2 separate regions of the Homo sapiens genome follow, and region 2 is linked to region 1. The links come from fine-mapping of genetic effects on gene expression. Tissue or cell type: whole blood. Region 1 holds a variant in brackets; the other region holds the start of a gene. All regions are shown on one strand. Distances are from middle to middle.

Region 1 (5,219 bases):
TCAGGTGTGGGAGTGGAACCTCGTCCACAGAAGCTGCCCCTTATGCGTTACAGGACCTCATCAGCCACCCACCTCTCAGAGGACAAGAGTGTTTGTGGGGTTACTACGAAGGTTAAATGAAATTATTTTTATTTCAAATGATTTTTAAAAAATCATTTAAAATATTATGACTTGGCTGCGTGTGGTGGCTCATGCCTGTAATCCCACCACTTTGGGAGGTCAAGGTGGGCAGATCACTTGAGGTCAGGAGTTCGAGACCAGCCTGGCCAACATGGTGAAACCCCATCTCTACTAAAAGTACAAAAATTAGCCGGGCGTGGCGGTGGGCGACTGTAATCCAGCTACTCGGGAGGCTGAGGCATGAGAATCACTTGAACCCAGGAGGTGCAGGTTGCAGTGAGCCGAGATCATGCCACTGCACTCCAGCCTGGGCGACAGAGCAAGATTGTGTCTGAAACATAAATAAATAAAATAAAATAAAATAAAATAAAATAAAATAAAATAAAATAAAATAGTATGACTCAATGAATAATCTGTGCCGCACATTTTAGCATCAAGAAGGGGTGGGGCTGAGTATCCCTGGGCCCTCCCCAGGCCTAAGACTCTGAGTCTGTGTCTAAAGTCCTGGGAACCTCACTTGTGGTGGTTCATAGACATCACCAGGTCATGGACGGTGACAGAGGACAGAACACCCCAGGGGAGGCTCTCACCTGCTCTCTCAGCGCTCAGGAGAGACGAAGAGGGGTTTCTGTTCACCTCCAGACACAGGTGCACACACACCCCACACAGACACATACAGAGATACACAAAGACATAGACACACATACATTAGAGACACACAGACACACTTGGATACATCGAAACACACACACACACAGACTCCTGAGGAGCTCTGCTAGGCCTTGGGACCTTGAAGGTTCCTGGAGAAAAGGTAGGAAAGGGGCTCCCCCAGGCCACTTGGGGTAACAGTGGGGGGCTCACCATGTAGCCCTTGCAGCCACTGTCACCCTGGAAGTGCTCAGATTGGGAAAGGCTCTGTCAACCTGGGGAAGGGGCCACAGGGGACTCCAGTGGGGCTCAGTGGGGCTCAGGGGCCACCCAATGAGCTGGGAGTCAGTAGCCCCTGCTCTCATCCAGTGCTCTAGGACAGGCTACAGGTAGGTGGGCTGGTTGCTTGCCAGCCATTCTGACCAACTACTCAAAGCCCAAACCTCTCTGAGCCTCACTGGCCCACAGGTAGAATGAGGAGGTGGCCAGACAGCAGTTTGCCAGAATGTTCCCTAAGATCTGAGGACAGGATCCCTGCCGACTCCCCCTACTTCGACTAGAGCTGTTCTGCTCTGGTTGACACACTGGGGTTCCCTGGGCAAATTGATTTGAAAAAAGGGATTCTGCTGCCACAGAAAAAACAACAACAACAAAAAAAAGACAACTGGCCTGGCCAGCTGCCCTGTGACTCACCCTGGCTTGGCGCCTGCCACCTGTATCCAGGATGAGGATGAGCAGCGGGAATCCTTCCGACCCAGGCACAGCAGGCGAGTCTGTCTCCCCCTAGGGGCAGCTGGGAGAGTCATGGGCATAGCTTGGCTGAGGAGCTCCGGTGGACCCGGGCCCACCCCAGTCTTGGGGCAGTGGTTGGCCAGGCTGGGCCCAGGGAAGGGGGATTGATGTCTCATAGGCTCGGGTCTCGTGGAAAGGCCGAAGGGCTGTCAGCAGACATGGCCCCATGTGCACCCTGAACTCAGGGAAGGATGTTGGCTCAGTCCATATTCCTCTCTGGGCCTCTGTTCTCCAAGAGAAGGGCATGGCCATTGACTGCTTTCATTATCTTGTGCCAGGCATGGGGTTCCCAGTGAGTGAGACCCCGCAGGGCTGTCCTCTGGTGCAGAGAAGAGGGATTTGTGGGGTCACACCAGGACTCACATAATCACGTAATGTCCTTATAGTCTCTTTAGTCCTGCTTCAGGTCGCTCCTCTTTTTTTTCTTTTTTTTTTTTTTTTGAGATGGAGTTTCGCTCTTGTTGCCCAGGCTGGAGTGCAATGGCGCGATCTTCGCTCACCGAAACCTCTGCCTCCCGGGTTCAAGCCATTCTCCTGCCTTAGCCTCCTGAGTAGCTGGGATGACAGGCATGTGCCACCACGCCTGGCTAATTTTGTATTTTTAGTAGAGGAGGGGTTTCTCCATGTTGGTCAGGCTGGTCTTGAACTCCCGACCTCAGGTGATCCACCTGCCTGGAACACTCCCAAACATAGCTAGCTGCATGGCCCATTCCCTCCCTGGCCCTCTGCTCCGGAGTCCCACTGACGTCAGGATACCCTGGCAGAGGGCAGGGGCACTCATGCTAGGCCAGGGATGGCCACTGCTGGTCCTGGGTGGAGGGGCCACCGCGGCACGCCTTCCACAGCCCCAGGGACACCTTCCAGACAGACCATGGGCGCAGCTTCACCTCCCGGGGCTTTCGCTCCTTTACCTGCTAAAAGTGGGGTAGTGACGTCTGCCTTGAGGGGCTGTGGATAGGCCACAGTGAGAACATGGCTCAGGGCTGTGCACATGCCCACCTCCCTTCCTCCCCTGGCTTCCTTC[C/T]CCAAACAGCCCACAGGCAGGCCATTCTACAGTTGGGGGAAATGGGCCTGGATCCCTCAAGAACACGAGGCTTTGAGCCTGCTCTGGACTTACTTGTCTGCTTGGCCACATTAGCTGTATGATCCTGGCAGCGCACCTGGCCGCTGTTTCCCCGCCCTGCCTCCTCAGGTGCACCCACAGCTGTACGCGGTTCTAGAGGGACGCTCCTGGGAGGGGGTTGTTTTTTGAGGAGGAGGGGGCGGTACGGAGCAGGCCAGGGTCCCTTTTCAGGGTGACTGTAGGCTTGCAGGGTGGGGTGGACTCTGTTCTATAGGTGACACTCCCAGCCACAAAAAGGATGCCAAGAGGGGCTGGCCCTGCCTGCATTTTCCCTAAACGCAGATGCTGGGGCCTGTGCATCCTACAGCGGGTAGGGAGCCCCCTTCCCCTGCAGGGAGCTCAGAACTGCCCCACTTTAGGCAAACCTAAGTGAAGAATCCGAAGATGCTGTGGAGGGAATGTTGGAGTGTTCCCCAGAGCTTCCCCATCCAATTCCATTATCTTATCCCCTGGGGGAAGAGGATGAACCAGTCACTCCCACGAGCTCCCAGAGAGGCACCCAGCATGGACAGCAGCACTGGGGCAATGAGATTTGGGCACCCAGGTGGGAGCTCTTGGAATAACCTTCTGAAAGGAGGGGCCTCGGAGTGTGGAGGCAAGAGCAGTGGGAGGAAGAGGTGGGTGATGATTGCCAATGGGACCACCAGGTCCCAGGTGTCTCCCTGGACAGGACCTGAGCACCTTCCCCTCTGCCCTCAGGGGCCCTGTGAGACCGGCAATACTGAGCGGCAACATGGGGTGAGCTCGGAGTGGGAAGAGGAGGAGCTGAAGCCCGCAGGCCTGCAGGTGCAGCGAGGTGCGGACCTGCCTGCTCTGAGGTGGCTGCTCTAGGACCTACACAGGTAGGGCATGCAGCAGGTGCTCAATAAATATTTGTGGCTGGGCGCAGTGGCGAGAAGGTGGGGGAGCCTCCACCTCAGCTGCCCTAGTCAAGAAGCCTTGGACTGGCTGGATGCGATGGCTAATGCCGGTAATCCCAGCACTTTGGGAGGCTGAGGTGGGTGGATCACCTGAGGTCAGAAGTTTGAGACCAGCCTGGTCAACATGGTGAAACCCCATTAGTATTAAAAATGCAAAAATTAGTCGGGTATGGTGGCAGGTGCCTGTAATCCCAGCTACTAGGGAGGCTGAGGCAGGAGAATCGCTTGAACCTGGGAGGGGGAGGTTGCAATGAGCTGATCACGCCACTGCACCCTGGCCTGGGTGACAGAGCAAGACTTTGTCTCAAGAAAATAAATAAATAAATAAATAAATAAATAAATAAATAATTAATTAATAAATATTTGTGACTGAAGAGCAGAAGGAAGTCAGGCCTGACTCGAAGCCACCACACCTTTTCTCACTTGGGCCCAATGAGTGTGAAGAGGCTGAGCCTCAGAGAAGGGTGAGGTGAGCCCCCCAGCACCCTCCCAGCAGGCCCCCTCAACTGCAGTCCTCCCAGTGTCTCCCCCAAGTCCTCCCAGGGCTTGGCCAGCCCTCCCAGTGTCCTCCCAGCGCCCCGTTGATGAGCCACGTTATGCCCACATGTGGCCATGAGAGGTCGCCCTGCGCCGCCGGCTGCAGCGAGACTGCGTGGTGGAGGAAGGAGCTCATCTTGGAGAAATAGCAGGATGCGGCCAGGGCAGGATTGGAGGATTGTATTATCCAGAGGGGCAGGGGTGCAGGGATTCCCAACGTTCTGCTGAACAGTGCACCGTAAAGGGGTCCCTTGGGGCATAGACAAGAGATGGGCCCAGGGAGGGGGCGGCTGGCCCCAGAGACACACAGCAAGCCCATGGCAGAGCCAGAGGGTCCCCCGACCCAGGCCCTCACCTCCTGGGCTTGAAGAGGGCCTGCCTGTGTTTGGGGCATGTCACAGTCAGCCTCAGTTGGGTACCCAAGACTTCTGGACTGCAAGGTGGAGATGAGGTCAGAGAGGACAGGGCTGGGGACAGGGAGCGTGGGCTGGGGGCTGAGGGGGGAATTGGCTGACCCGAGGCCACAGTATCCTCCCTCACTGGAGGTCCTGCAGGTCATGCTGGTCACCCCTGTTGATGTGGAAGTGGAGCTGGGTGGGGCCTGGCTTGGTGGCTCTGCCAACTTGGTTTGGACCTCACTGATCCTGGGTCCCCAGACTTGAGGATTAGAGCTGGGCCCTGCTGAGAGGTGGTGGGACCAGGCCATGCTGGGCCTCGCAGGTCAGGTTGAAGCATTGGGTTTTGTCCAGGGAAGTGGATAAACTGTTGGCTGGGAGGTTAGGCCACGCTAACCAGCATGGTCCCTCTGGTTATCATCAGGCAAGAAGTAAGTGGGAGCTGACTTAGGAGGCTGCTGCTCTCCGTGCCTATAGCATAGCTTGAGGCCCAGCTCCATCCCTTACTGGCAGAGCAGGTTACCGGCCCTCAGACCTGGAAGAAGGGGCCTGTGTTCCTCAGGCCTGGCCCTGTGGCATCCCTCTCCTGCAGGAGGCCCTTCGTGGCTCCCCACTGTGGGCCCAATAACACATGTGTCTCGCCCAGCCCCGTCTTCAGCGCTATGCACTCGTCACTCATAGCTC
Region 2 (5,219 bases), 76 kb after region 1:
TGAGGATACTGAATGAGAAGAGAGGGGAGAGATTGGACAGTGGCTAACGGGTGCATGGGACTCCGCTGAGCCAAGTGGTCTCACCCTGTGTCTGCTGTGCTCCAGCTCCAGCCCCAGCCCCTCCCAGAGGCCCCCAAAAGACTAGCTGTGGCTGTTGCCACGCTCAGAAAGCAGACCTGGTGGCCAAGCAGGGCCCCGCCCTTCTCTGTCTGTGGCTGCTGCACTCAGAAAAGAGGAAAAGGTATACATGGGGAAGCCAGGGCTCCCCCAGCCTGGAAGGCTGACCTGTTGCCAAATTCCAGCTGCCAGGATCCCCCCAACCTCAGCGGGCTAACCGGAAGGGAGGCCACCCTGCCAAATGCTGCAGGTGCTGGGGGCACAGGTCCAAGGCAGGTCCAAGCCTGCCAGCCCCAGACGTGGGAGGAGCCACCTGTGCCATCTGGGCGTGGGGGCAGGGGCTATGGCAGGCACGAGGAAGTTTATTCAATGAAAGTCAAAAATTGTTTTTTACATGACTAAAACCTGTTGCCTAAAACCTGTTTGTTCCTATTTTGAGTTTTGGCTGTATTTTAAAAATGAGTAATATTATAGCTTAATGATAAAAATAGCCATCACTCAAATTGACTGAACATACCTGTGTGCCAGGCACTATTCTTGGCCTTTCATATAAAGTACTTAATCCTCCTAATATCCCAGTGAGGTAGGTGCTATTACTATCCCCATTTTACAGGCGAGAAAACTAAGACTTCCCTTCATTGCATACTTTCACCTTTTTCCTGATTATTTTCCTGCTCTTGGTTCTCTCATCCTAGAAATCCCCCAGAGCTGGAGTCGGGGAAGAGGTGGGTATGGGCCCGGCTTTTCTCCTGCCTCTGCCACCTCTCTTAGGACGTTTCTGAGCTGAGTTTTCTCATCCGTAAGGTGAGGGGTTGGCTGCAATGGCTGACTGGCTGCACTCTGACACCCTGTGGGGAGGGTGCTGACACCAGTACAGACGTCCTGGAGGGCTGTCAGACCACGACATCCTCAGCCTTGTGAGTGGGCATCACCAGTGCTGCTTGCCCAGGATTTAACTTAAAAAGCCCCGGGAGTAAGGGGTCCCTGCATTTACTCCCCGCCTCTCTCCTCCCTCCAACTTGCCTGCTGCACTCCACCTGGGTGGAGGTAGCAGAGGGGGCAGCGCGGGCTTTGGCCTCTTTCTCTCTCTTCCTTCCACAGATCTGATTTTGTTGCTTAACCCCCTTCCTTGTGGTCTGGAAGTCAGGCCATGGCTGGGGTAGTGAATGTGTCCCGGATGTTTGTCCTGCCCAGTCTGTCTGCCTTGCACTTCTGGGAGCCCCAAATTCATTCTTACAGGGAGGAAGGTGGCCATGGGACTCCAGGGGGGAAATGACTGGCCCAGGGTCACATGAGAGCCAAGAGTGGGTTCCCCCATGCTGGACCCCTTGTGTCTGACCCCAAGCCTGAGTCAGGAAAGCCTGGAAAAGTGAGTGGAGGAGGAGGAGCTCGGGGGGCCCTGTTCTCCATTCAGCCCCCACCCAAGAGCTGTGGGCTTCCAGGTGTGTGAGGCTGGGCGCCTGGCACCTGAGCTCCTGCGGTTTGGGTCATAGTCTGAGCCAGAGTGGGAGATTCAGGGTAGGGAGGTGGTGAGGGGCACCCAGGTTTGTCTTATAGGGCACTCTGTTCCCGGCTCTGTGTAATGAGGGGAGGACCCCAAGTCCTTTGGACAGCGCATCCATCTCCTGGCCATAAAGTGTGAGCGTGGAGCTGGGCTGATTTGGGGGTGTCCGGAAGAAGGAAATGAAAGGGACATTTAATGAGGTCCTAGTACGTGCCAAGCATTTTCACACACCTACATTTGATTCAATTTCCACTACAAGTGGACACTGTTATACCTATTTTACAGACACAGAAACTGAGGCTCAGAGAGGTGCCTGGAGACGGAAAAGGGTGGGGAGCGAATCTTTCTGGCGCGCCCTCTGTGCCTCAGTCACCGTGCCAGACGCCTGCCCGCGTTCCCTATCGAAATCCCCCCGCCTCGCCAGCGAGGAAGGCGCGATCGTCCCCGGAACACAGACGGGAGACCGGAGGCTCGGGGACCGCCGGACGACCGCGGCCGGGCGGCCCCTCACACCACCCGGGCGGCTCCCCCGACGGCGCGCGGCGCTCACCTCCAGGCGGTCGATGCGGTCCCGCAGGGCGCGCACGGCGTCCTCCAGCTCCAGAATGAGCGCAGGCGAGTCCCAGGGCCCGTCGGCCATGGTGTCGCGGCGGGGCCCGGCGCCCTGGAGGCCGCGCGGCAGGCCGCTCTCGCAGCGGCCCAGCTTGCCGGTGAGCTCACGGATGGTGTCCTGGTCGGCGCGGATGCGCGCCTCCTGCTGCAGCGCCGTCTGGCGCAGCTGCTCGGCCGTGCTCTGCAGCAGCAGCAGCTCTTCGCGCTCGCCCGGCGCAGCGCCCGCCGCGTCCCCCTGCTGGGCCCCCGACGGGCAGGCAGCAGCCAGCGGCGTGCACAGGAAGCGGCTGAACAGGGGCCCGGGCGGCAGCGGGTGCGCGCTGGCCGCGGGTGCCCCGGGCAGCGCGGGGGGCCCGGCTGAACCGCCCGCGCCGTGCAGCGCGCTCAGGCTCCGCTGCGGGCCCGGGGACGCGGCGGCGCCCGAGGCGACCGAAGCATTGTCGGCGCCGCCGGGCAGCGCCCGCGCCGGGCTGGCCGCCAGGGGCACGCTGGCGATGATGCAGATGACGGCACCGAGGAACGCCAGCATGCCCGCGGCCAGCAGCACGGCCAGGAACTTCAGCGTGAGGCGGGCGGCGGGGGCGCCCGAGGCCCCCGGCAGGCGCGGCGGCGGGGTCGGGGCGCGGAGCCCGGGCGCGCTGGGCCGAGCGGGGCAGGCGCGGGAGCCGGAGCCGGAGCCGGAGCCGGAGCCGGAGCTGGAGCTGTCGCCGCGGCCGCTGCTGCCGCCGCTCTGAGCCCGGGCGGCGGGAGGAGGAGAAGACGGCAGGCGGCGGGGAGGGGGAGCGGGCGCGGCGGCCCCGCCCCACTCGCTTCCCCGGGCCGGCCCTGGCCCCGGCCCAGCCCCGCACCCGTTCAGTGCCGGGCGCCCGGCTGGGGGCGCCGCCGGGGATGCGGCGAGGAGCGAGGGCAGCGCCTGGGACCTTATCTCGCCGCGGTCACAGCGCAGGGGCCGGCGACCCGAGGGCCGCGCGGCGGGGCTCCTGGGTGACCCCCATCCCAGCCCTCCCGTGCTCGGGCCCCCTCCCCAAGCCGGTTATGTTCACATCCACCCGGGAGGGAGCTTTCTTCCGGGTGGGGCTGTGCACTGGGCGCGCCACAAGCTCGGTCGCAATTGAGCCTTGCCGTGGACAGGCTCACAATAGAAATGAGGAAACTGAGACACCTGAGGTCAGGCCTCTGTCCAAGGTCACCGGGTGGCTGCGTTGGAGCCGCCTGCGAGCTTAGGCACGTTTCACCGGACCAGACTGTGGATGGGGCTGGAGTGGGAGCGGTTAGAGGTGGAGAAGAGGCCAGTGTTGGGGGTTGGGGGGAGGCTCGGATTTTGACCTAACTTCTGTTTATACTGTGGCCACCTGCCCGTCACCCCCACCTCCAACCTTCTGAAGGAGCAGAGTTCACTCCCCGCCACCCTCATTACAGAATCTTCCTGTGATCTCAGAGGATGATGGAAATTCTCTCCTCTGAATCCTTGGGGGCTTAGAGCCTCACAGGTCCAGAGAAACCCCCCACCCCCACTGCAGTCTGCCTTCGTTGGCAAGCGGTGCCACGTGCCTGGTGGGCATGTGGACCAGGCCCAGAAGGAACAGCAGGAATGGGAGTGGGCTGTGCTGTGGGGGTGGCAGAGGAGCGTTTTACTTTCTTCTGTCAAAAATGTCTATATATATTTTGTTGAAAATTAACTTTGCAATTAAAAACTTAAAAACAATCCTACTATCCTCCACACTTTATCCCCAGCTCCAATTTTCCATGAGGTCTTTCCTGACCAATACGGATTCCCAGGGCTGGAAGGGCCTTGGGAGGGCTGTGGTTATTCCCAGCTCTGTCTCCCTTCCAAGCCTGCATTTTTGACTTGAAGGGAAAGCGCAAACCAGGATCTCTGGACCACCACGGCTACCACTGTGGTTTCGAGTGTACTTCACATAGCGCTGGTGGTGGGGAGAGACCGGAATGTTTCCCAGGAAGCCACAACCCTGGGGGACGCTCTCCAGCCACGGGGATTTTGTCCAGTGTTCCCAGGCACACGTGCTCCACCTCCCTCTCTCCACACATGTTAGGATGATGTCCACCCTGTTCACCCATCTCTAGGAGCCAGGGATTTTCATCCATACCTGAGTTGTGAAAGAGGAGAGAAGCAAACACAAGCGCTGTATGCCAGGAACCTGAGTGCTGTGTGTGCGTGGATGTGTGCTGGTGCTCACTGAAGTCGTAACCTCAAAACCCAGGGCAGGCAGCTGGGCTTGGAGGAAGCATCTCATGGACAGAGAGATGGGCTGGGCTCTTGGAAGGCAAAGGCCAGCGGTAGGCCCTGCTAAAGTCCTGGGGATGCATGAGACATCGGGACTCCTGGTACATCTACACGTGTGCCGTGAAGACAGAAACACGGAGATAGCATCCCCAGGAGAAACTGTCATAGGAAGTCCAGGGAAGGACAGGAGATGCCAAGAGAGAGGGCTGCTGCCAAGAGCAGCAGAGCCACTGTGACTTGGGCACCAAATGGTGCCACCTTTACCTGAGCTGCCCCCTGAGACTTTGGGGACAGTTTGGATAAATGGGTCCAGAGGCTGGAGTCAAATTGTGTTTAAACTGGTCTGTTGATCTCCTAGAATGACTTTATTTTTTATTTTATTTTATTTTTGAGACAGAGTCTTGCTCTGTCACCCAGGCTGCAGTGCGGTGGCGTGATCTCGGCTCACTGGAACCTCTGCCTTGCGGGTTCAAGCAATTCTCCTGCCTCAGTCTCCCAAGTAGCTGGGACTACAGGTGCACGCCACCACGCCCAGCTAATTTTTGTATTTTTAGTAGAGATGGAGTTTCAATATGTTGGCCAGGCTGGTCTTGAACTCCTGACCTCAGGTGATCCACCTGCCTCGGCCTCCCAAAGTGCTGGGATTACAGGCGTGAGCCATGGCGCCCAGCCTCTCCCTTCTTCCTTGGCCCATCTCTATCCCCAGCATTCAGCATGAAGCCTGCCCAGGGAAGCTTCTCG

What was found. PIP is the estimated chance that this variant, and not a neighbour inherited with it, causes the effect.
Region 2: it holds the start of NPTXR, and the variant in region 1 is fine-mapped to the expression of NPTXR in whole blood (TOPMed, PIP above 0.99).

Annotation. Positions count from the first base shown.
Region 1 is chr22:38,764,773-38,769,991 of GRCh38, forward strand. No RefSeq gene overlaps it. Among named protein-coding and RNA genes, the nearest start is that of SUN2, 11 kb to the left of the region's middle. The variant C/T (reference allele first, on the strand shown) is at 2,585.
Region 2 is chr22:38,841,064-38,846,282 of GRCh38, forward strand. NPTXR (neuronal pentraxin receptor) reads right to left here and starts at 2,965. Exons shown (of 5, transcript NM_014293.4): 1 at 2,172-2,965. The coding sequence starts at 2,795. RefSeq lists a silencer at 2,484-2,553.